Homo sapiens: one gene and its partners. The protein of the gene in region 2 interacts with the protein of the main gene of each other region in a biochemical or structural test. Each region holds a gene or a part of one and is shown on either strand. Other genes may lie near its edges.

The links.
Region 1: the proteins of BASP1 (region 2) and GAD2 form a complex in vitro, tested with the Homo sapiens proteins (one study listed by BioGRID).
Region 3: the proteins of BASP1 (region 2) and TRIM37 form a complex in vitro, tested with the Homo sapiens proteins (one study listed by BioGRID).

What each region holds. Positions count from the first base shown.
Region 1 is NC_000010.11:26,296,774-26,303,773, reverse strand, and holds part of GAD2 (glutamate decarboxylase 2), read right to left. Parts: intron 2,987-7,000; coding exon 2,813-2,986; 3' UTR 1-2,812. UniProt on the Homo sapiens protein: Catalyzes the production of GABA.
Region 2 is NC_000005.10:17,220,631-17,229,085, reverse strand, and holds part of BASP1 (brain acid soluble protein 1), read right to left. Parts: intron 1-8,455.
Region 3 is NC_000017.11:59,047,881-59,054,880, reverse strand, and holds part of TRIM37 (E3 ubiquitin-protein ligase TRIM37), read left to right. Parts: intron 1-3,552; coding exon 3,553-3,667; intron 3,668-5,487; coding exon 5,488-5,703; intron 5,704-7,000. UniProt on the Homo sapiens protein: E3 ubiquitin-protein ligase required to prevent centriole reduplication. Probably acts by ubiquitinating positive regulators of centriole reduplication.

The sequences.
Region 1 (7,000 bases), on a different chromosome or scaffold from region 2:
ATTGATTTCCTTTTCTTTCCTCACATCCTGTGGCAGTATATGAAGTCCATACCATGTATAGGTCTCAGATAAAGACATATCACACTTGTTTGTTCAAGTATTTTAAATGATAAACACAATATTGCTGTATAAATGAAAATGGCCATGTCAGTTCTGATTAAAGCTAAAACCAAACTTTTCTAAGATTTGTAAAGAATGGGCACACATAAAGACCATGGCACTGGGAATTTGGGCTAATATTAAAAATAATCTCCCTTCTTTCCTCCCTCCCTCCCTCCCTTCATTTCCTTCCTCCCTCCCTCCTTCCCTCCCTCCCTCCCTCCCTCCCTTCCTCCCTTACTCTCTTCTGACCTGATTCCACATCTCCTTTCAAGATGATTTATTAAACTACTGGGACCTACTAGGCTTTTATTTGCTTCCTTCTTTGGGCTACAGTTGGTAAGGATTTCCCTGCACAGGCCTGAGCAAGGCTCTCAGCCAATTTGAAGGAGTACTGGGAAGGGGTAGGGGAGCGGGGAAGAAGAGCTATTGTTGTTGCTAGAATTGTTTTGCTGGAATTTCATATATAGGCACAAATTGTCCTTTAAAATTTTACCATCTCATTAACCTAAAAAGCAGCAGTTTATAATCTAGGATCTGTAACTCAAAAGATAAAGCATCCTGGAGTACAGCAGGGTTGGTTCACCAGGGCACTGGGCCCCACTGTCTTCTCCACGAAGGACAGCAGGTTGGATCAATTAGCATCTCTGTCTCTGAAGTGGAACCTTTGGGCCTGAGGCTCCGGATAGTCGGGCAGCTATGTGCTTATTCTCAGCAGGCAGTTTTGAGAAAGGAACTGCTTTCTAATGCTTTGTCTAATGCTTGGCCATTAGACAAAGCCTAGAATGGAAGGTTACTCCTTCATGAAATTCTGCGGGACAGATGAAAGAGTTTATTTCTGATTGTCATAGTGAACCCATTTGTTTTTCTAGACAGAAAGGGCCCAAAGCCATGTTCATATCAAGTTATCACTGTTTTTGCATATAGCCTAGGAGAAATAATGTAGGGGGAAGCTTATGAAAATTTCAGATGGCTGGATCCTGTGGTTATATTATAGGGCATTTCTCTATGTTATATTGTAGGGCATTTCTACCCGTTGAAGGGCAGGGCCTTCTCTCTTCCCTTGTATACCTGCAGTCTGAGTACTGAACTACCTGGTCCATTCAGAAATGGAGAATGTTCCTAAATTTGCATTTGCAGTCTGCATATCAATCTATTGTTCTCCAATCAGCACTTGGAATCTGACGATGTGTGACCCCATAAATATCTATGGAAGCTTTTGTTAGCTCATGTTTTTCTATCAGGTTCACAGGGAAAGAAGGATGTTTTAAAAATACTATTTTGAATTCTAAGGATCTTATTATTTCTGCATATTCTGGTCACTTTGGATCTCGATGGGAGATGGATAAAGGAAAATCTTAAGATAATGCCTCAAAATCTAGGGTGAGAGGCTCATTTCATGGAAGAAAAACAACCACCCATGGAATATAAAGTAACTATTTTGGGTCCCAGTGGTAGGGAGTCTAGTGGGAGAGACTTTGTGGGGAGGAATGGGGAGGGGATGGAAATGCGCAACTGGCCTGGAGGTAAATTTCTCTTTCCTGGACAGTGGCAATATGGCGCCAGGATGATGTCATTATTGTCCCACAGAGATCTCTTCTCCCAAGGCCAACTTTAATTTTCTGGGCTCACCACATTCTGGGAGTGTGCTTCATTCCTCTTTGCTCAGGCTGATAAGGTTTTATTTTTACTTTCTCTAATTAATTCAAATGACCTAATAAAAGAATACTATTTGGAAGATGCCTCAAGAACTAGCATCAACCTTCTGTTCAAAACAGGCCGAACTGGAAAGCAGAATAGAGACAATTACCCTAATTTAATCTGAGATGAAGCCTGGTTTGTCACGCTTGCAGAGTGAGTCCGCTAAGAGTAAAATGGGTGGAAAACTTAAAGGGGAAGAGAATCTTACTGCCAATGGGATCAATTATTTTAAAGAACTCGCAGTATTCTTTTGTGTTTGTCTTGAAATACTAACTTTAGAGATGTGATAAGCCATAACATGTATAGAAAGAAGCAATAATACCTTTTAAGAATTTCGTGGGTCAATGTTTCAAAATAACTTTGCTAAGTGTTTTATTGTGCCTCCATTAAGAGAAAGGAAAAAAAAATCTGGCTTAGATTTTATATCTGCCCCCGCAGTTTGTATAACCTATATAAAATAAAAATCTATATGTTACAAAATAGGATATCTTTTTTAATATATATATTTTCCTTTTGTAAAATTATATGTATTTAAATACATTTGAAATGTTGCTATAGGTAAATTAGAAATTTTTTTCTAATACTATGAAAAAGGCAAGAGTTTTTATTGTCAACATATATTTTATATTTACTTTGTCCTTTTTACTGCACCCCAAAGAACCTTTTATGATTCAGGGGCAATTTGGCACTATTCAGTCCTACTAGTCTGAAGTGAAAATAAAGTTTGCTTTGCACACTATATTAAAAGTAAGGGAAGTATTTATAACAATTTTAAGCTTTTCCTTATTGATTAGAACATAGCCTTTTGTCACGAATTCTTAGAGAGGTATTCTAAACTTAAGAAAGGACTTTTAAAAGGAGCAATGTCTTTTTTGTTTAATTTTTAAACTCTACTTTGACACCACAATATAGAAATAGATTTACTTTGGAACAAACTACAAATACATTCACACAGTTTGTGACAACTTAATTGTCTACCTAGAGAAGTGGAACAGCTTGGTGAGCAAGGTTATTATAAATCTTGTCCAAGGCGTTCTATTTCTTCAATCAGGAAGTCAATGTCTTGGTGAGTTGCCGCTGGGTTTGAGATGACCATGCGGAAGAAATTGACCTTGTCTCCCAAGGGTTGGTAGCTGACCATTGTGGTTCCATACTCCATCATTCTGGCTTTAATCACTGGAGCCACCTGTGGGACAGACCATATCAGCATGGTGACTTTCTCCTGGGACTCTCCCCTGAGTCAAAGAACCCAACAGCAAGCAGCGTCTTTAGTTTTTAGCTCAACAGTCAGAACCTTATTGTTTTCTCTTGAAAGAGTTACCTCCAAGTTTTCTTGGGATCAGAGAATTAGAACAGTCTAACACATTCAAGATCCTGCAAGTGATAAGAGGAATAATAAGTGATAGACTATCAGCTGCCTGCCACCTTGTCCTTGACTTTCCAGTTAGTGTTTTGGGAGGATGGGATGAATCTAGTATTGGCCCCAAGCTAAATGGGTTAGCAAGACGTTTGGGGGCATTTTCCCCCCACAGTAAATGTAAAAACATTGGAAATAAACAGTTCAGAGGATTGTTACCAAAATGTAAGTTTGAGTGTCAGGTGATATATGAAGATAAGCAGACTTTTGGCAACTTTCTTGAAACCCCAGAGCTTTCTAGTTTCTTTTCGTTCTCTCTTTGCAGTGCCTCACTTTATAAGATATTTTGAAAGATAATCCTTAATAATGATGATAATTAGCTGGGACAAAAAGCTGAACTCACAAGGACTTAACATATGTTTCATATCACAGACAGGATAGCATACCACAGACGAGATTATACTCTATTTATGCCAGATTTTTGATTATAGCCTCAGTAGCTCTCTATTGTATATGAAATTAAGTTTAAACTCTAGTTCAGTGCAAAGACCTTTCATCATCCATTTATGAGGCCTCATCTTCCACCACTTGCCAAAATGAATCTTCAACTCTGACAAGACTCCTTTATTAAATATCTCTTGAATTTACCATATGTATTTTTATCCCTTCACACTTGTCATCAGTGTTACTATGTCATACTTGTTCTCTGTGCTTAGAATCCATCCCTTTTCTCTTCTGGTTCATATCCTACACACACTTCAAGATTCCACCACAGTCCTACAACTGCTATGAAGCCTTTCCTGACTTCTAGTGTCCATCAGTAGCTCTCTTCCTTTAAGCTGTAAACATATCATCCATGATCCTTCCCCATAGATTCTGACTATATGCTAATTTCCTACTATCCTCTTACTTTCAAGCAAATACATTTTCTTTCTCTACCTCAACTGTCAGGTCCTGGAGGGCAGACACAGTGTCTTCTACTGTTTTTGTTGTTGTTCTTTACCAGCACAGTGCTTGGTTCATGTTGGGGGATTCCTAAGTTCTTATTGCTATAAAGAGTAGCATAATAGAAACAGCTATCTAGGAAGAAGCAAAAACTTAAATCATGTCTAACTGTACATACAGTCTATCCACATATATTTACCACTGGAGTTTGTAAATATATAATATCTGATCTTCATTTCTGCAAATGGTAGATAGACATCAGAGAAACTTTTAGACTTCTTTGAGTTTCATATGGTCAGAAACCCGGTTCAAAATGGAGACCATGCCTTCTATCACAGCTGGATTTATCTTAAATAGACAGTTCAATTCAAATGGAATGCTGTTATGAACATGTGACTTATAAATATCAACTCTTAAATAATCATTGGTTTATAATGAAGTTTTCATCTTCAAAGTATCCAATGCATAAAATAGCAATGTTCCCATTGGGTCCAATCATTTGTTAGTTACCAAAGACAAGGTCAACAGGTAGACTTCACCTTCACTTCTCATTCTGAACCTAATTTCCTTCTCTAAAAATGAACGTGGATGATTCCAGCATTGAGATCTTCTGACTCTACATTGAGTTCTTATATCCCTTCCCACCCCTTGTTCCATGGGGAGGAATGTTTCTCTTGGCCTGATCCTTCTTTCACCTAAAGCATTAAGAATGTATGCAGAGCACTGGACTCATCCCAGGGAATAAATAAGAAGAAGAATTAAAATATCTCAAATCTGAGATTAACTTCTGAAAATAGATCTACTAGCATATTCCAGCCAAAGGGGCATGGAATTTATCCTTTGTGTTGTGAGGCGTGTCAAGTCAATGTGGTTCCTGCGAAGATAAATCTCAGATTAGAAAAGGAATTCCAAATCCACTTGGCTGCAGGAATTTAAGGACAAGTCACATAACCATTCCTTAGTTTTATTTGTATAATAAATCACGCTTGCCCTTTAGAACTGATAAAATAATGACAGAGCTTTACTCAGTAAATTAAAGTCTCATTTAGTTTTCATGGGTAATCCAAGCAAAAATACAGAAGAATGGCACTAATTATTAAGGACAATCATCTCTAGCTTTTCAGATGAATGCAAATCAAAGGTTAAAAGATTAATGCTAACAGCCACAAGCAAACAGATTTGGGCATAAAGTAAGATTGAATCCCCTCAGTTCCCGAAGCAAGCTGAATTGGCAGAAATCACAGCTGTCTAAATACATATGACTTTTGGTTGCTTCCAGAAAATGCTGATGAACTAAAATTAGCCGGAACATGAACATCTACTTCGTTGTATATTCACTCATTGCAAGTTAAGAAGGAAAATAAGATTCGGACTATTCTGATGAATATATGTGATCTGTGGGGCCAAAATAGACACTCCTATATCAACTAAGATGGGTCCAGGGTTCAAGGCCTGGCTGGAGGGCAAATTACTAAATTCCTAATGATTGAAATTCCCTAACAATAGGCGCTATGAGACCCCCTCCTTACCCTGATTTACTAACCAGACCACTATAACTCTGACTAGACAGAAGACTGACCTTACACACATTCTTTCCTGGTAAGCAATTGCAGACCTTAAGCCAGTTTTAGCAGCTTATAGATGCGGTGCACAAACTGTGTTTATGTCCTACAGTTCACCTTTTGACATGAAGAGCCAAATTTCACCTCATTCTAACACTAAAACCCTGCCCCGAAGTAAACATGGGATGTATGTTACATATATGTTTACTCATTCTGCATGTGCTCAGCTCCCCTCATAAATATGGATAGCTTTCCCCCAAAACCTACTGAATATGTATGACTCTACTGTGTGATACAGGCCCTGTGAGGCATAAAACCCAACCTGCCCTTCCTCTCTTGGAAGAGAGGGCACCTTCCACACATGCTGGAGGCTGTCTCTTCCCAGTTTGCAAACTGATATCATCAATAAAGCTCTCCTTTCTACTATCTAGCCATCCCAGTGGTCTTTTGGATGAAATACATAGAGATTTCACTTATTTCTAGGCTTTTGTACTTTTTGGTTGGATTCCTAGTTTTCCTAAATAAAGAACGCAAGTTGAGAAAGAGTGGTTGCATGTTGAAGAATTCGCTAAAGGTATAGTCAACAAGAGCTCTTTGGGCCTGCCTTAATAATTTTAGGGTATTGTCTTCTCTCTTGTGCCATTAGCTTTTTCAGTCCTTTAGAAAGCAATAACCAGGCGACTTTTCCATAATTGGAATCCACATTTGTCCCTTTCAAAGAGGGTGCATAGTAAAGCATTATGAAATAAACTTAAAAGATATCACAGAAATGTATTTTTCACTATGTCTTAGAAAACCTCTTTGTTTTTACATTTTGGAAGACTGCGAGAAATTTCTGAAAAATGTAAAAGCAGAATAATTAAATGAGAAATTCTAAACTGTTGGCTAGGCTTGGTGGCTCATGCCTGTAATCCCAGCACTTTGGGAGGCCGAGGTGAGCCGATCACTTAAGGTCAGGCGTTCGAGACCAGCCTGGCCAACATGGTGAAACCCCGTCCCAACCCTGTCCTGACCAAAAAATATAAAAATTAGCTGGGTGTGGTGGTGTGTGCCTGTAATCCCAGCTACTCGGCAGGCTGAGGTGGGAGAATCACTTGAACCTGAGAGGTGGAGGTTGCAGTGAGCCGAGATGGCACCACTGTACTCCAGCCTGGGCAACAGAGTGAGACCCTGTCTTAAAAAAAAAAAATTCTAATATGCGAAAATTTCACCAATTAAATCCTCTATTGCACTTAATAACACAGACTTTCAAAGAGTCTGTATTAAATATAAGTCCAGGCTACTTCCTTACAAATTTAGTATTAAATCCACTGCTAACCTTTGAAAAGTCCTCCAA
Region 2 (8,455 bases):
AACTGCTAACAGGTCAGGGCTTGCTGGTTTGCCACGCTGTGTGATATCCTAAGAGTTTTGTTTTTTTTTTAATAGGTATACATCTCTGAATTCTCACCCCCTTCCAACAGGAAGCACACTCAACTCAAAACTGGCTTGGGTTTCTTCCACTCCCCTTAGAAACAGCAGTAACATTTTTTGCAGCATTACATCATTCTGGACTTCTTTGCCCTTTTTCTGAGATTCCTGGCTAGCTCACTGAAGAAAAGACAAAGAATCCCGCTTTAGTCGTATGCTTAGCCAATGCGGATCAATACAGAAATGAGACTCACAGGTAGGAACTACGGATCTAAAGAAAGCAAGTTAAAGGAATAGTGTTTGTACGTGTGTCCCAATCTGCCAACTGGTCCCTCTATCCATCACTTCCTTCTCCCCTTAACGTGGCAGTATTTGTTGCTGGAAACAAGGATATGGTCAAAGAATACATTGCTAGTCACAGCATTAAATTTCAACAAGGTGATTTGATTTAAGCAAGAAGGGCTAATTAACACGGGTTTGGGGTGAGGTGGAGAGATATGAAGCTTGTTGGCTTTTAAATTCACTTCTTTGTTAAATTCACTTTTAAGTTAAATTCCCTGCATTTAAGAGTTAGTTAAGTTAAACATAACAACTTAGAAATATTCATAGGACTCCTTTCCCATTAAGAATTCATTTCATTTAACACTACAGTTCTTACCGTAGTGGAACCATGTTACCATTCCATTGGATAGTTACCTCTCTCTGCATTGTGGTCAGTTGAGTTCTCTTACGATGACCCCCTGTACCTGTCCACCCAGAAAACTTTGGTACAGATGAAATCAAAGCCCAGGCTCTCTGTCTGGATGGCAGAAATAAATCCAGTTACAATAGAAAAGTAGAGGTGAATGGAATAAGCCACTTATGTCCTGTTTTTGTCTCTTCTACCAATGAAAGGATAACCAAACCTTCAATGAGACTTTCCATCAGTCAATCATCGGGTCAGATGAGGAAAACTAGTAACATGCAGCTGTGAGTCAGAAAAAGAAACACATACCTGGGAAGCATTATCAATCTTGTCTTAACAACCTTCTGGAGAACATTGGTACAAACACTTGTTACTATCTGCCTGAAAACCAAACATTTGAAAATTCTGGAACCAGGTTTCTAAAGTCCAGTTGGGTGAGCCTTGGGAAATATGAGCTTGGGTTCTCAACAACAGATCACCAGGGCTACTGAGCAAAACCCAGTGCCACAATAAACCTCCTGTCAATAGGGTGGCATTCACCCTGTTTACCTGAGGTTGGGTGATTATGAGAAGCCTTTGGAGGCACTGTCATCACCAATTGTTAATCGAGATTCTTTCTTCCTTAGAAAAATGAGTTATTGGCCGGGCATGGTGGCTCACGCCTGTAATCCCAGCACTTTGGGAGGCCAAGGAGAGCAGATCACTTGAGGTTAGGAGTTTGTGACCAGCCTGGCCAATATAGTGAAACCCCATCTCTACTAAAAAATACAAAAAAATTAGCCGGGCATAGTGGCGGCACCTGTAGGCCCAGCTACTTTGGAGGCTGGGGCAAAAGAATTGCTTGAACCTGGGAGGCGGAGGTTGCAGTGAGCCGAGATCGTGCCACTGCACTCCAGCCTGGGCGACACGGCGAGACTCTGTCAAAAAAAATATTGTATATATATATATATATAAAAATTAGTCAAGCTTGGTGGCGTACACCTGTAGTCCCAGCTACTAGGGAGGCTGAGGCACGAGAATTGCTTGAACCCAGGAGGCAGAGGTTGTGGTGAGCAGAAATTGCGCCACTGCACTCCAGCCTGGGCGACAGAGTGAGACTGTCTAAAAAGAAAAAAGGACGGGTGCGGTGGCTCACACCTGTAATCCTAGCACTTTGGGAGGCCAAGACAGGTGGATCACGAAGTCAGGAGTTCAAGACCAGCCTGACCAACATGGTGAAACCTTGTCTCTACTAAAAATACGAAAAAATTAGCTGGGCATGGTGGCGGGTGCCAGTAATCCCAGCTACTCGGGAGGCTGAGGCAGGAGAATCGCTTGAACCCAGGAGGCTGAGGTTGCAGTGAGCTGAGATTGCGCCACTGCACTCCAGCCTGGGCGACAGAGCAAAACGAAAAAAAGAAAAAAAAAAAAAAGAAAAATGAGTTATTCAGAGAAGATTCCAGGACACTTTATCTAATCACAGTAATAATGGCTATAGTAAATACCCAGGTGATCATCTAACCTCACCCTGCCTTCTGGGTGCATTGCAGAATTAAGGAGTGGGAAGTCACTCCAGAACTCTCTGCCTGTCCATCTAAAGTCAATCTGATTTCTCTACATTTTCCTTTTCTCCAATCATCTTACACCTAAGGCAAATACAGACACTGTGATCCTCTAATGAAATAGCTGAGAACATTAGTAAGGGTTAAAGACAGCAAATATTCCTACAGCCTCTACAGTTTCCAAGGCAAGCTCAGAGAAGGACAGGAGACCATCCTATGAAGACCCAATAACTCCGAGGAAACCTTTCTTCTCTGTCTCTTTAAGAAACAGCTAGTTCTCTCTGTCAGTGGATACTGTTTTCCCCCTTTTGATACACTATTTCCCCCATTAGATCTTGTTACTATTTACCTTGGTTATTGTATTAGTCTACGTGGTAATGGTGTTTTGAATAGACTGTCAAAGGAAAAATGAAGTGGGTCTTTTCAAAGTCACTTTGCCATGCAATTCAGGAAATTTGTAATTTAGAAAGCTCAACCAGGAAAAGTTTTTATCTAACAGCTATTTCTTCATAAACTTAAAAAAGAAGTATTTTTCTCTAATAGAACCACAGCTTTTCTTTAAAAAGACAAAGAAGTTTTAATTTTGGTTTATTTTAGGAATATATCCATTTCTGAATCTACGTAAGTGTAATAATTAAAAGCATTATGAAAATAAAAGTTACCTATTAATTGTGGGTTTCTCTGGAAAATGTAAATTCAAACCTGCTCTTATTGACCTCAATATGTCATTTTAAATGTGAAATTAAAATTGTGTCTCATCAAAAACTAAACTTATCACAGATTATCCAAACACAAATGCACACAGTTTACATTTACCAACATCAGTTTCAAACATCCCAATAGTATGCTTTAGAAAGTGTTTTAGCATCTTAAGCACTTATGTTCCATATTTTAAGGACTACTTCAGAATCTAACAGATTTTTTAAATCCTCTAAATCACCCCAAATACTATAAATGGTAATTTTAAATAAAAAAGATTAAACATCCCGTTGTATGCAGCTCTCAAACCAATAAGCCAGATAACGCTAGAAATCGGCATAAAAGCTCTCCATCCACCACCTGCCACGACAACGTGCACACTGGATCTGCCAAGAGGGCCCCGAGCATTTCAGGGGTGGGTGGGATGCCTGACTGCTCCGCTTGCTCTATAGCCCCCAAATAAGTCTAAAGCCAGCTGGCGTTCTTTTCAAACACATACCCACCATCGCCAGCTTCCCAGCCCCCAACCACTGTGCATTTTGGGAGAAAAACAAGGATTTAACTTAAATTTTAGAAAAACTAAAGTTTAGTTTTATGAAGAAAGTTATTTCAGTGCATGCCATATACTTTTTGGCATATAAAGGAAACCACGTGCACATAATGTAAGAAGCAGAAAGGAGTAAGTTGAGGGGAAGATGGCCTGTGGATGAAGTGGCAGCAGGTAGTGACTGCACCGTCCCCCTGGGGCATGTGTGGTGTATTAAAAGGCCGAAGAGGTCTCCTCTGGGGGAGATCATGAGACGGATATAGGATCCAGACTGGTTTTTTTTTTAATGGTTCTAGGGTACAAAAAAAAATGGTAGAAAAAAAAGTTTTACGTTGCAGACAGTGAGTAAGAGTGACTCAATTAGACATTCTCTGCTTCTCTCTCAGAAGAGAGGGGCAGCAGGAGTGAGGCTTTATGGGGAAATAACCTGGGTTTCCACGCAGCCCATAAGCAGCTCGTGGGACTCTGAGCAACCCACTAACTTCTCTAAGATTATTTTGAGTTCCAAAATGAGTGTTTAGTCATGAGCTTTTAAACCTTCTGCTCCAAGGAAAGTACTTACAAAGGACTGAGGTTTCGATAGTGGTTAAAAGCAGCCACTGGCTTTCTGTAAGTGGATCCTGCGTGGACGCGGAACAAAACAGATTGACCAATTTAGGCAGGACTTGGTTTATTTCTAATCAGGCAACACTAACTACACAGTGGCAGACGGTCTGCTAGAGCCTGGTCCATATCTCAGAGCAAAATTGCAGATAAGTAAGACATTTGGGGTTATGACTTCCATCTGCAATGTCCAAGGAGAAACGTGAAAGTATCAACCAAATCCACATTTATAGTCCTCAGTAAGAGCAACCACAATCATCATACTAGAAAGGAATGACTTAAGGTATTAGTCTCCATTCACTATGACAAGAAGCACCTCTAATCTACAAGCAATTTAACGTAATACTGATGAAATATTAGAAGTATACACTGGATCTCTTCCATAAATAATTTTTCATTGAAGAAGTTAGTATCGCTCTCTCTAAATTAATACTGAAGATGTCAATATGTGAAAAGGCTACCCATTTTATTCAAGAGCCCCCCTTCCCCTTTTTTCCCCCCCTGAAGAGTCCATATTACCTAAGATAAAATGGCCAAGGCTTAGGAGAAGTACAGTGTAGCTCCATCTACACGGATTGAAATCCTAGGAAACTTTTTAAAAGACATAACCACTATATCTAAAATCCCCTTCCTTACAGTGAACACCTGACAGATAGAGTAAAATATATGACTTCCCTCCAGAATCCGTAAGATACAAAAACCTGTTTAAGGAAGCTGTTAAACAACAATTTACCCAAAATGAGAGTGAATTCACCTTTGCTCAACAACAAAGTGTCCAGAAGGACAAAAGCAAATCCTTGGGCATATCCCTGAAGTAAATGTCTGAAATGTTAAGACCAGTTCCAGAATTGATCCACCCCAAATAGCTGAAATTCCAAAGACTTTTTTGTTTTGTTGTTCAGAGTTCCTGATTTCTAAGGTCCCCACGGGGATAATTCCTTCCAAAGATTTGTCAATAGATCACAACATCTTTACATTCCTACATAATACAACTTTCAGTTTTACTCCAGGTATGGAGGCGGTGGGCATCTGATGCCTGTTTGGCAGGGGCAGGGTGGAGGTAGTGGGAATAATATGGAATGTAAAATACCTAAGTTGGCTTATCAACCTTAGTACTAATGACTTAGACTTCTTTCAAATGCTAATGATACATCTGATTCAAGACACAACAAAGCTAAGGATTTTCAGGAATCTGAATGAGTTACATCTACACCCAAGGTCATACAGCTAATCAGGGTGAGTCCAGGTCTCAACATATCAAAGCAGTAATCCTGTCTCTGAAGTTCCAAGGACTTTCATTTTTTTCCTTCAATTAAAAAAAGTACAAATTCAGTATGGAGGCTGGGTTGTATTAACCTACCCACTTTTGAAACTTAGTCCACATGAACTACTGACGTATTTAGCGTATTCTTAACCACACCTGGAGGAGTTTTCTAAACCGCAGACTTCTATATTCTACCTACTGAGCAAGGCACCACCATTGGCCTGTCTTGCAATAATGGTCTCTTTGAAACAAACATATGAGTAGCTATAGATGAAGGATGCAGTAAAGAAAACTGATATTCACACTCCTTTAAAAAGATGCACTGAATATAAGGAGGCATTGTCCTAAGTGCATGACAATTTTGTTTAATACTTACAGTAACCATGTATCACAATTCCCATTTTCTAAATAAAATTGAGGCACAGAGAAGGTAAGCAATTTACCAAAGATCATACAACCAGTAAATGGCTGAGAGAAGATTCGAACCTGGTGCTGTGGCTCCAAAGTCCATCCCCACCATGCCTAACCCTCCAAATCATGCTTTCTAAATATTATACTCCCTACACAATGTACAAATTGCTGAAATATCTACTTCAAACAGAAGTTCAAAACACAAACCAATGAAGTCCAGTCCTGCCTCCTTCAAAACGAACCAAAAAAAAAAAGAGTTTATAAAATGCTTAAGTGATAAGGGGAAAATATTGTGTAAATGCTTTGCTTTCTCCACTGCACACCATTTTCCTATATTATCCTGAAGTGTTTCCTTATGCCCTGGGCCCCTGTGGTGCTTGCAGATGGTTTCTATTTCTAAATCTCTAAAGCTTTCAGGAATGTATTCCTAGACTTCCAAGCCTGCTCAATCACCACCTCTCAGCACTGACGGCCTTGTTGAGTCAAAAAATCTCAGCTTTCCCTATTTTTGTTCAAAAATGTACTGAGTATGGAAAGTCTGTAAAACATTAAGAAATAATTTTTTATGTTATTTAAATCCTTAGGGTGCAGAAGAAAAACACACTATTTCATTCTCTCTGCCTCCCATTTCATCCCATTTCTGACTTCTAGAGGGAAAAGGAGAATGCTGTTTTAATCACACTGCTTCCTTCTTAGGCTTGTGGCTCCTCAAAATTACAATTGAACTATATTCTGGTGAGAAATGGACTCTGTATGGTTGATTTTTACTCTTGAGAGCATTTACCAGACATCTGTTCTCATGTGACACTTACCTAGACGTCTGCCTCAAAGGCTGTGGCTGGAAAGGCGTTTCACAAAAGCCTTCCTTTGGCAGGCTGGGCACTGCTGTGGTTTCAAGACTACCCTTGTATTTTCTCAAGAGAACTTAAATGCCACTTCTTAAGTTACATAAGTATAAGTATAAGCAGACCTGGGGAATTCAAGGAAGGTGGCCATCTTGATATCATGAAATCCACTTTCAGGCTAATTCCCATATAATACAGAATTTCAAATATCTACAAACACAAGGACAGAAAATAGGAACCATGATATTTGGTCCCCTTTAGGATTGAGACATCCTACTTCTAACTTAATACTCCTGGGGTCCCCCGGGCTTCATTAATCAAGCTGGAACAAAAATACAGCTGAATATACTGAAATTAGTTAGTGATGTCAATTACACTGAAAGTGTTGATTGACACTTTCAGTTGTTGAAAACACTTTCAGTGTAATTGATATCACTAATTGAGACTGAGAGGTTGAGGAGCCCTTCAGAGCCAGCCATTCCACACTTAAGTCATTTTTAGATATCATATGTAGTTCTTATTACAACCCCAAAATAGGAATTATTAGATTCTTCAAATCCAGTCTTTATACGATTTCCTGAGAAACCACTCCAAAAACATTACCCCAAAACACATAAAGAGTACTTTATCTTTCAAAATATTCTATTTGCAACCTCACAGTTCCTTCCTAATAGTTGTCCACTATAATTAAGCCAAAGAAAAAAGCTCATGTTCACTGGCTTATCTAATGTCTTAAGAGATACAATAAATTTAAAGGATTAGATATAATTAGAGAAAATTTGATATAACAATAAAGATTCCATGCCCATTTTCAGAGAATATTCAAGTTGTCTATATATCTACTCAGTGTTTTTCCCCAGCAGTTACCTGGTTTCCAGGGTACCAGCTAAGACCATCATTAAGAAGAGAAAGAAGATGTGAAATAAGTAGGTACAAACTACATTAAGATAAAGGTCTGGACAAATCAACGCATTTCTTTCAACAGAATCAGATACCAAGGGCAATTGCTTCTGACAAATAATAGTTCACAGGTCTTCTTTGGATATTTAAAAAAAAAAAAAAAAAAAACATTTACAAGAGATCACAAAAATAAGACAGAACAATTTTATAAATCTTTTATTTAGTAGGCATTGTTTATTCCAGCTTGTAAAGTTCAGTAGTGCTTGATGTAAGTTTTTAAGCCTGTGGATGAACGTCTTAGCTTAATGCTCCAGGTACACTGGGATAAATGGGAAGTGAGCTTATTAATAGACTTGCTAGGCTTTCCCTTTCAAACACATATTTAGAAAGACAGAAATTGATTATGTTCCAAAGACCAGTATCAAAGCACTATAAAATAATATTCTATACCAACCAGTTTGATTTCAAGTTATTCATAAGATTTTAGAGTGTGTATAAACAAGTATGTGTATGTGTACATGTGTATATACATGACACCTTGTTTTTAAAAATGGGTGTGGATTTTGCAATTTTTACAAAACTACCGTAAATAACACAGACATCCATTTTAGAGTGATCAAATCTCCTCCAAATGAAAGTTTCTCTCTGATGTCATACTCCGCTTGACCATGAAATGAAAATGGCTTCAAACTGTTCTTAATTGTGAAATTAAAAAATAAAGAGACAGAACGCATCACCTCTTGCACCATAAGATCCAGGAGGATTATGGATCCTAGTAAATCCAGGATTATGAAGAGGCCTCCAAGGATAGACAGCCTAAATGTTTAGGGCTCTCCCATTGGACCTTTAAACTAGGGTGATGTGGGGAGATAAGGTTCTCTTCTACACGTCACAATGGCAGAC
Region 3 (7,000 bases), on a different chromosome or scaffold from region 2:
CAGCCTGGCCAATATGGTGAAATCCTATCTCTACTAAAAATACAAAAATTAGCCGGGCTGTGGTGGCACGCGCCTGTAATCCCAGCTACTCAGGAGGCCAAGGCAGGAGAATCGCTTGAATCCGGCAGGTGGAGGTTGCAGTGAACCGAGATTATGCCACTGCACCCCAGCCTGGGCGACATAGCAAGACCCTATCTCAAAAATAATAATAAAGTAAATAAAAACAACAGCCCTGTTTAACGTGGGGTAGTCTTTACAGGTCAGAAGTTTTTGGGCATTGGCTGGGTGCCGTGGCTCACGCCTGTAATCCCAGCACTTTGGGAGGCTGAGGTGGGTGGATCACCTGAGGTCAGGAGTTCAAGATCAGCCTGGGCAACATGGTGAAACCCTGTCTCTACTAAAAATACAAAAATTAGCTGGGCATGGTGGCAGGCACTTGTAATCCCAGCTACTTGGGAAGCTGAGGCAGTTGAATCGCTTGAGTCCGGGAGGCAGATGTTGCAGTGAGCCGAGATTTCACCAGTGCACTCCAGCCTGGGCGACAAGAGTGAAACTCCATCTTAAAAAAACAAAAAACAAACAAAAAAAGGTTTTTGGGTATCATTACATGATGTTATAATTTGATGATCAAAATAAGAACTTGAATATTTAAAAAAGATTAAAATATGTTCTGAACTGAGAAGTTTCAGAGTATTTAACAGTTTAAAAAGTTCTCATCACAACAATTTTAAACATTTTTTTCTTGAGAGTGATTTAATGTACTCCTGAATTTCCCTTATTCGGAGCTCTTTGTTCTTGAGCATACTGGACAGATGAGTTGCTATCATATCAGCATTTACTCTTATGTGTTTTCCGTAGCTTTTCTGGAAGTATAAAGAAGTTTAACAAGGGATATGATTTTCAGTGTAGGGAAAAAGATATGTTTTTGTTATTGTTTTGTTTTGTTTAGAGTCAGTGTCTTGCTATATTGCCCAGTCTAGTCTAGAATTCTCGGGCTCAAGTGATCCTCCTGTCTCAACTTCCCAAGTAGGTAGGATTACAGGTGCATGCCACGGTGCCTGGAATCATGTTTTTTGAGGGGAGGGATTATTTTAGTTTTCTTCGTATAGCTTTTCAGACTTTTGGGGTTTAACTATTCACCAAGAGAAATAATTTATTGCTATTTCATGCTTCAGCCATAGAGAGAATTACAAAATTATTCAAACATCAATTTTACCAACCTATAAAAGACCCATTTTCTTATAGCCTTGATTTCATCCTTATTAGCGTTACTTATTAGTACAGAAACAAATTCCTGTTATGACATCATTTTTTTTAAGCAACATTGAGTCTATACCATATGCCTGACACTGAGTTGCTAATAAGAAAAATATAGACATGGTTTTTGTCCACAGGGAACTCAAGATGAAATTGGCAGATAAAAACAGAATTTACTACTCTCTTATTATAAAATAATGCTATAGTAGCACCGTAAGTAAATTGCTATGAAGTTTGTGGATAGGGGGCTTCACATTATCCTATTAATGAGACATTGCTCAAACTTTAAACCTTTTATTTCAAGATTCTGGTGGAATTTTGTATGTATTTATTAGAAAGTTATTTAAGGCTTTTCTATAACTATGAATGTATGTTTCATTCTTTCATTAAAACAGAAAGTTAAGAAATTTTACCTGCTGCTTGGTTTTGTTTTAATGGCAAAATATTAGAACTAATGTGCAGAGTTAACCAGTGGTTTAAATCATTCAAAGAAAATAATAGTGTTTAGACGGTCTTACTTTAATGTCTTACCAGTGGGTACTTCCTAGACTGTGAATCGTCTCTGCTCAGTTGAGTGAATCATCTCTACTCAGTTCCGTTCAGAACGTAATTTAATCTCTTGATTTGATTTGATTTGATTTGATTTGATTTGATTTGATTTGATTTTTTGAGACAGAGTTTCGCTCTGTTGCCCAGGCTGGAGTGCAGTGGTGCGATCTCGGCTCACTGCCACCTTTGCCTCCCAGATTCAAGCGATTCTCCTGCCTCAGCCTCCTGAGTAGCTGGGATTACAGGCGCCCGCCACCATACCCGGCTAATTTTTGTACTTTTAGTAGAGACGGGGTTTCACCATGTTGGCCACGCTGGTCTCGAACTCCTGACCTTAGGTGATCTGCCCACCTCGGCCTCCCAAAGTGCTAAGATTACAGGTGTGAGCCACTGTGCCCGGCCAATCTCTCTCTTTTTTTAATACTCAAGTTCTCATTTTGATCATCCAGTTATAACATATAATGATGCCCAAAAACTTCTGACCTATAAAGACTATCCCAACATTAAATAGGACTGTTGTTTTATAGTCAGTGTTTATGTTCTGTCCTTTCTTGCATTAGTATTCTTCACTAAAACTAGATATCTACTGCCAGATAACTGTTAAATGGTCAGTAGGTTCTTACAATAAGGTGTAAAATCCTAGAAAAAAATGAACAGCTAACATTGTGTAGCCGGGTAAAAGGGCTGGAAGGAATGAGAGAGATGTAGATGTCCAAATTAGTCTTGCCTTGTGGTTTTTCCTTTCTTCAAAAACACCTTCACACATGCACTGCAATTTTTTCACCTTAAATATAGTCACGTTAGGCTATGTAACAAAGGTAGAGGTTTGTTTGCTTTAGTAATAGTTTTTTTTTTTTTTTTAATTAAAACAACTCTGGATAGATTAAGATTCTGTCATTTATATATTAATACGATTTTATGTAGGTGCAGTACTTTTTTTCCTAACCTAAGCTGAAATAATGCCATATTGTAATAAGGGCAGTTTTGATTGCTATCTTGAAGGGTTCAGGATATAGTTTATTTAGAGCATGTAACTCCTTGGGGGATAGTAAAGCAATCCTGGGTGGTTGAGCCAGGAAGTGATTTTTTTTCTGAGGGGCAGGAAATACGGGAACGTGAGATGGAATAGAGAAATATAAAGAGCAGCACTTAAAACTTTGTATTTTGCTACAAAAAATTAGCCGGGCGTAGTGGCGGGCGCCTGTAGTCCCAGCTACTTGGGAGGCTGAGGCAGGAGAATGGCGTGAACCCGGGAGGTGGAGCTTGCAGTGAGCCGAGATCCCGCCACTGCACTCCAGCCTGGGCGACAGAGCGAGACTCCGTCTCAAAAAAAAAAAAAACTTTGTATTTTGCTGGGGCCTCATTTAGGGAAGAAAGGGATAAGAGTTATCTTCCTCCTTATAGGAGGAAACTGCATAGTATATGGCTCTCTTCTTCCCAACTCATGATCATCATTGTATTTTAGTTACATTATTATAATAAATATGCCTGAGTAGGTTAGTTTGGGAAGCTTAACTACAATGTACAATGTTATTTCTTTAGAAAGGTAGTTTGAGGACAACTGGCTTTTCAGAACCTTGTGTCATAATCTGTGGACTACATCTATAAACAACAAATACTAGCAGCTCTAAGTTTATGTGAATTTTGGCCTTATAATCAAGTTAACCCAAATTGCAGAATTCAGTGCTAGACTGATAATGTTTTACTATTTGAATTTTTTTTTTAATGTGGCACAATTCTTTTAAGGTTTCAGGTACGTTCACCAACTTTCTTTCAAAAATCCCGGGACCAGCATTGGTACATTACTCAGTTGGAAGCTGCACAGACTAGTTATATCCAACAAATAAACAACCTTAAAGAGGTAAGAAAATATCTATTTCTGTTTTGGTGTTTCCTATTGTCCTTTTGGCTTGTTATATTTGTAATTAGATTTTATATATTTTATTGCTATTTGTAATTTTGTAATTTGTAATTAGAAAAAAAATCTAGTTATCTTGTTCCCCATCCTTACCAGTTCTGCAGTGTCCAGTTTAGTAGACACTAGCCACATACGGCCATGTAAATTTTTATTTTACTTTATTTATTTATTTTTTTTGAGAAGGAGTCTCGCTCTGTTGCCCAGGCTGGAGTGCAGTGGTGCAATCTCGGCTCACTGCAAGCTCCGCCTCCTGGGTTCACGCCATTCTCCTGCCTCAGCCTCCTGAGTAGCTGGGACTACAGGCGCCTGCCACCACACCGGGCTAATTTTTTTGTATTTTTAGTAGAGACAGGGTTTCACAGTGTTAGCCAGGATGGTCTCGATGTCCTGACCTCGTGATCTGCCCACCTCGGCCTCCCAAAGTGCTGGGATTACAGGCATGAGCCACCACGCCCTGCCACTTTATTTTTATTTTTTTTTATTTTGGAGACAGGTCGGACTCACTCTTGTTGCCAGGCACAATTTCCACTAACTGCAGCTTCAACTTCCCAAGCTCGGGTGATCTTCCCACCTTAGCCTCCCAGGTAGCTGGGACTACGAGCATGTGTCATGGCTAGTTTTTGTTTTTGTGGAGATGGGTTTCTCCATGTTGCCCAAGCTGGTCTTGAACTCCTGGGCTCAAGCAGTCTGCCTGCCTTGGCCTCCCAAAGTGCTGGGATTACAGGTGTGAGCCACTGTGCCTGGTCTGTAAATTTAGCTTAATTAAAATTAAAAATTTAGTTCCTTAGTTGCAGTAGCCACATTTCAAGTGCTTGCATTGGTTACTGCAAATCTAGAGCATTTCCATCATTGCATAAAGTTGTTTTGAACAGTGTGGCTGTAGTTTGAGGTAAGCTGTTTGTGTTTCTGTCAGTGACTTAGTTTCTCTTCCACAAGTTATCTTGGATTTAGAGGATTCTAGGCTATAGCACAATTAAAAGTTGTCCCATCTTGAACTCTTACTATTGTTGAATGAGCACTGGGGAAGATTAATTGATGAATTTTTATTTTACAGTGGTAAACTAAGGAATGTTTCATTTCCCTTAGGAAGTTAGGGTGTGGCAGGAGGTTTGGAGTGCTGAGAGTCGTTAATAGGTCAGGGAGGAAAATGTGAATAAATACATGCTTTCAGAGATTTTCATGTTAAATGTGCTATTTAAAACTGCCTGTATTCACTATACTGTTTGCTAATTGTATGTTTAGCTTAGGCTGGATATGAAAGAAGGAGGATGAGCATAAATGGGGCAGTTTATCTTTGTCATCAATTTTTTTTTATAAATAAAAGGCAGTAGGGATTCAGAGAAATGGTTTAAGAAATGGTGCCAAGTGAGGTGGCTCATTCCTGTAATCCCAGCATGTTGGGAGGCCGAGGCCAGAGGAACATTTGAGCCCAGGGGTTCAAAACCAGCTTGAGCAACATAGCAAGATACCGTCTCTAAAAATAAATAAAAATGAAATTAGCCAAGCATGGTGGCACACACCTCCAGTCCCAGCCACTTGAGAGGCTGAGGCAGTAGGATCGTTTGAGCCCAGTAGTTCAAGGCTTGCAGTGAGCTATGATGGCACCACTGCACTTCAGCCTGGGCAACAGAGTGAGACCATTCTCAAAAAATAAATAAAGCAATGGTTTTAGAAACATCTGGATGCATTTTTTTTTCACTTGAGACATCTTTTACTGTGCCAGTGAGCTGTGGCTAATATTTGTGCTTTTCTTGTTTTAAAAGAGACTTACTATTGAGCTGTCTCGAACTCAGAAGTCAAGAGATTTGTCACCACCAGATAACCATCTTAGCCCCCAAAATGATGATGCTCTGGAGACACGAGCTAAGAAGTCTGCATGCTCTGACATGCTTCTCGAAGGTGGTCCTACTACAGCTTCTGTAAGAGAGGCCAAAGAGGATGAAGAAGATGAGGAGAAGATTCAGAATGAAGATTATCATGTAATAATGAGGCCAGTTTTAGATTTTTGTGTTTGATTAAAAAAAAACAGTAGCATCATGGCTTTTAACATATTATGTGCTAAAACAGTAGGCTAAAAATATTGTCCATTGATTTCCATTAGTAATGTATGTATGCCCTTATGTAAATGTTAATAAGTCAGAAGTTGTTGAATCAAAGCATTTCAAGGTTGTGAAAAAAACAATACATTGTATAAAACAAACCGTGATACACATTTTAAAACCTAAACTACCATACATTGTGGATTTTAAAAATGTGTTCTGGCCGGGTGCGGTGGCTCACACCTGTAATCCCAGCACTTTGGGAGGCCAAGGTGGGTGGATCACATGAGGTCAGGAGTTCGAGACTATCCTGGCCAACATGGCCAAACCCTGTCTCTACGAAAAATACAAAAATTAGCTGGGTGTGGTGGTGCTTGCCTGTAATCCCAGCTACTTGGGAGGCTGAGGTAGGAGAATCACTTGAACCTAGGAGGCGGAGGTTGCAGTGAGCCAAGATTGTGCCACTGCACTCCAGCCTGGGAGACAGAGCAAGACTCTGTCTCAAAGAAAAAGAAAAAAAAAAGGTGTTCTATTTTCATTCACTGAAACTAGTACATGCCTTATCATTACTTACGTAGGTAGACTGATTTAGGATTCGGTAGCTAGCCAGGTTCTATCCCAGCTAAACAACAGTCAGAATCCAGAATAAGAGTTCAAGAAGTAGTTGATATTTTTACATAAGAAGGGATGCATAGACAGTTGGTTTTTTTGTAGTAATTTTTAAGATGAGAGACTTCAGTTTTAAGTTAAAATGAAGGACCCAGTGGGTCGAGAGAATGCACAGATTAAGTGCTTTGATAAACTAGAGATAATAGGGTTTGGAATGGAGCAGTCAGGTGAAGCAGTTAACCTTTGATAAACTGAGTTAAAGGAAGGGTGGAGTTTGCAGGTAAGGCAGCTGAAAAGTTGGGGAAGTTTTTGCTTAATAGTGGGTATTTTTTTTCTGTGCAGATAGGTGACAGTGTTAATTAATGACCTTGATAATGGTAAAATTAGGTAGAATTGAGGAGTGATGGTTTGAAACGTTACTCTGTGAGGAAGCTGATGTGGAATATGTGAAGGATTCCAGTCACACTGAGGGCCCAGCTGAAGGCGGCACGCATAAGTTAGTAAAATGATATCAGTCAGTGTGGTTGTGTGATTTTTCTCTACAGGGCTCAGCAGCTGAGGCACAGGAGCAGAAAATAGATTTTTGAAAACTGTATTATTCTTTGGTGCTTGGTTTATGGGCTGGATG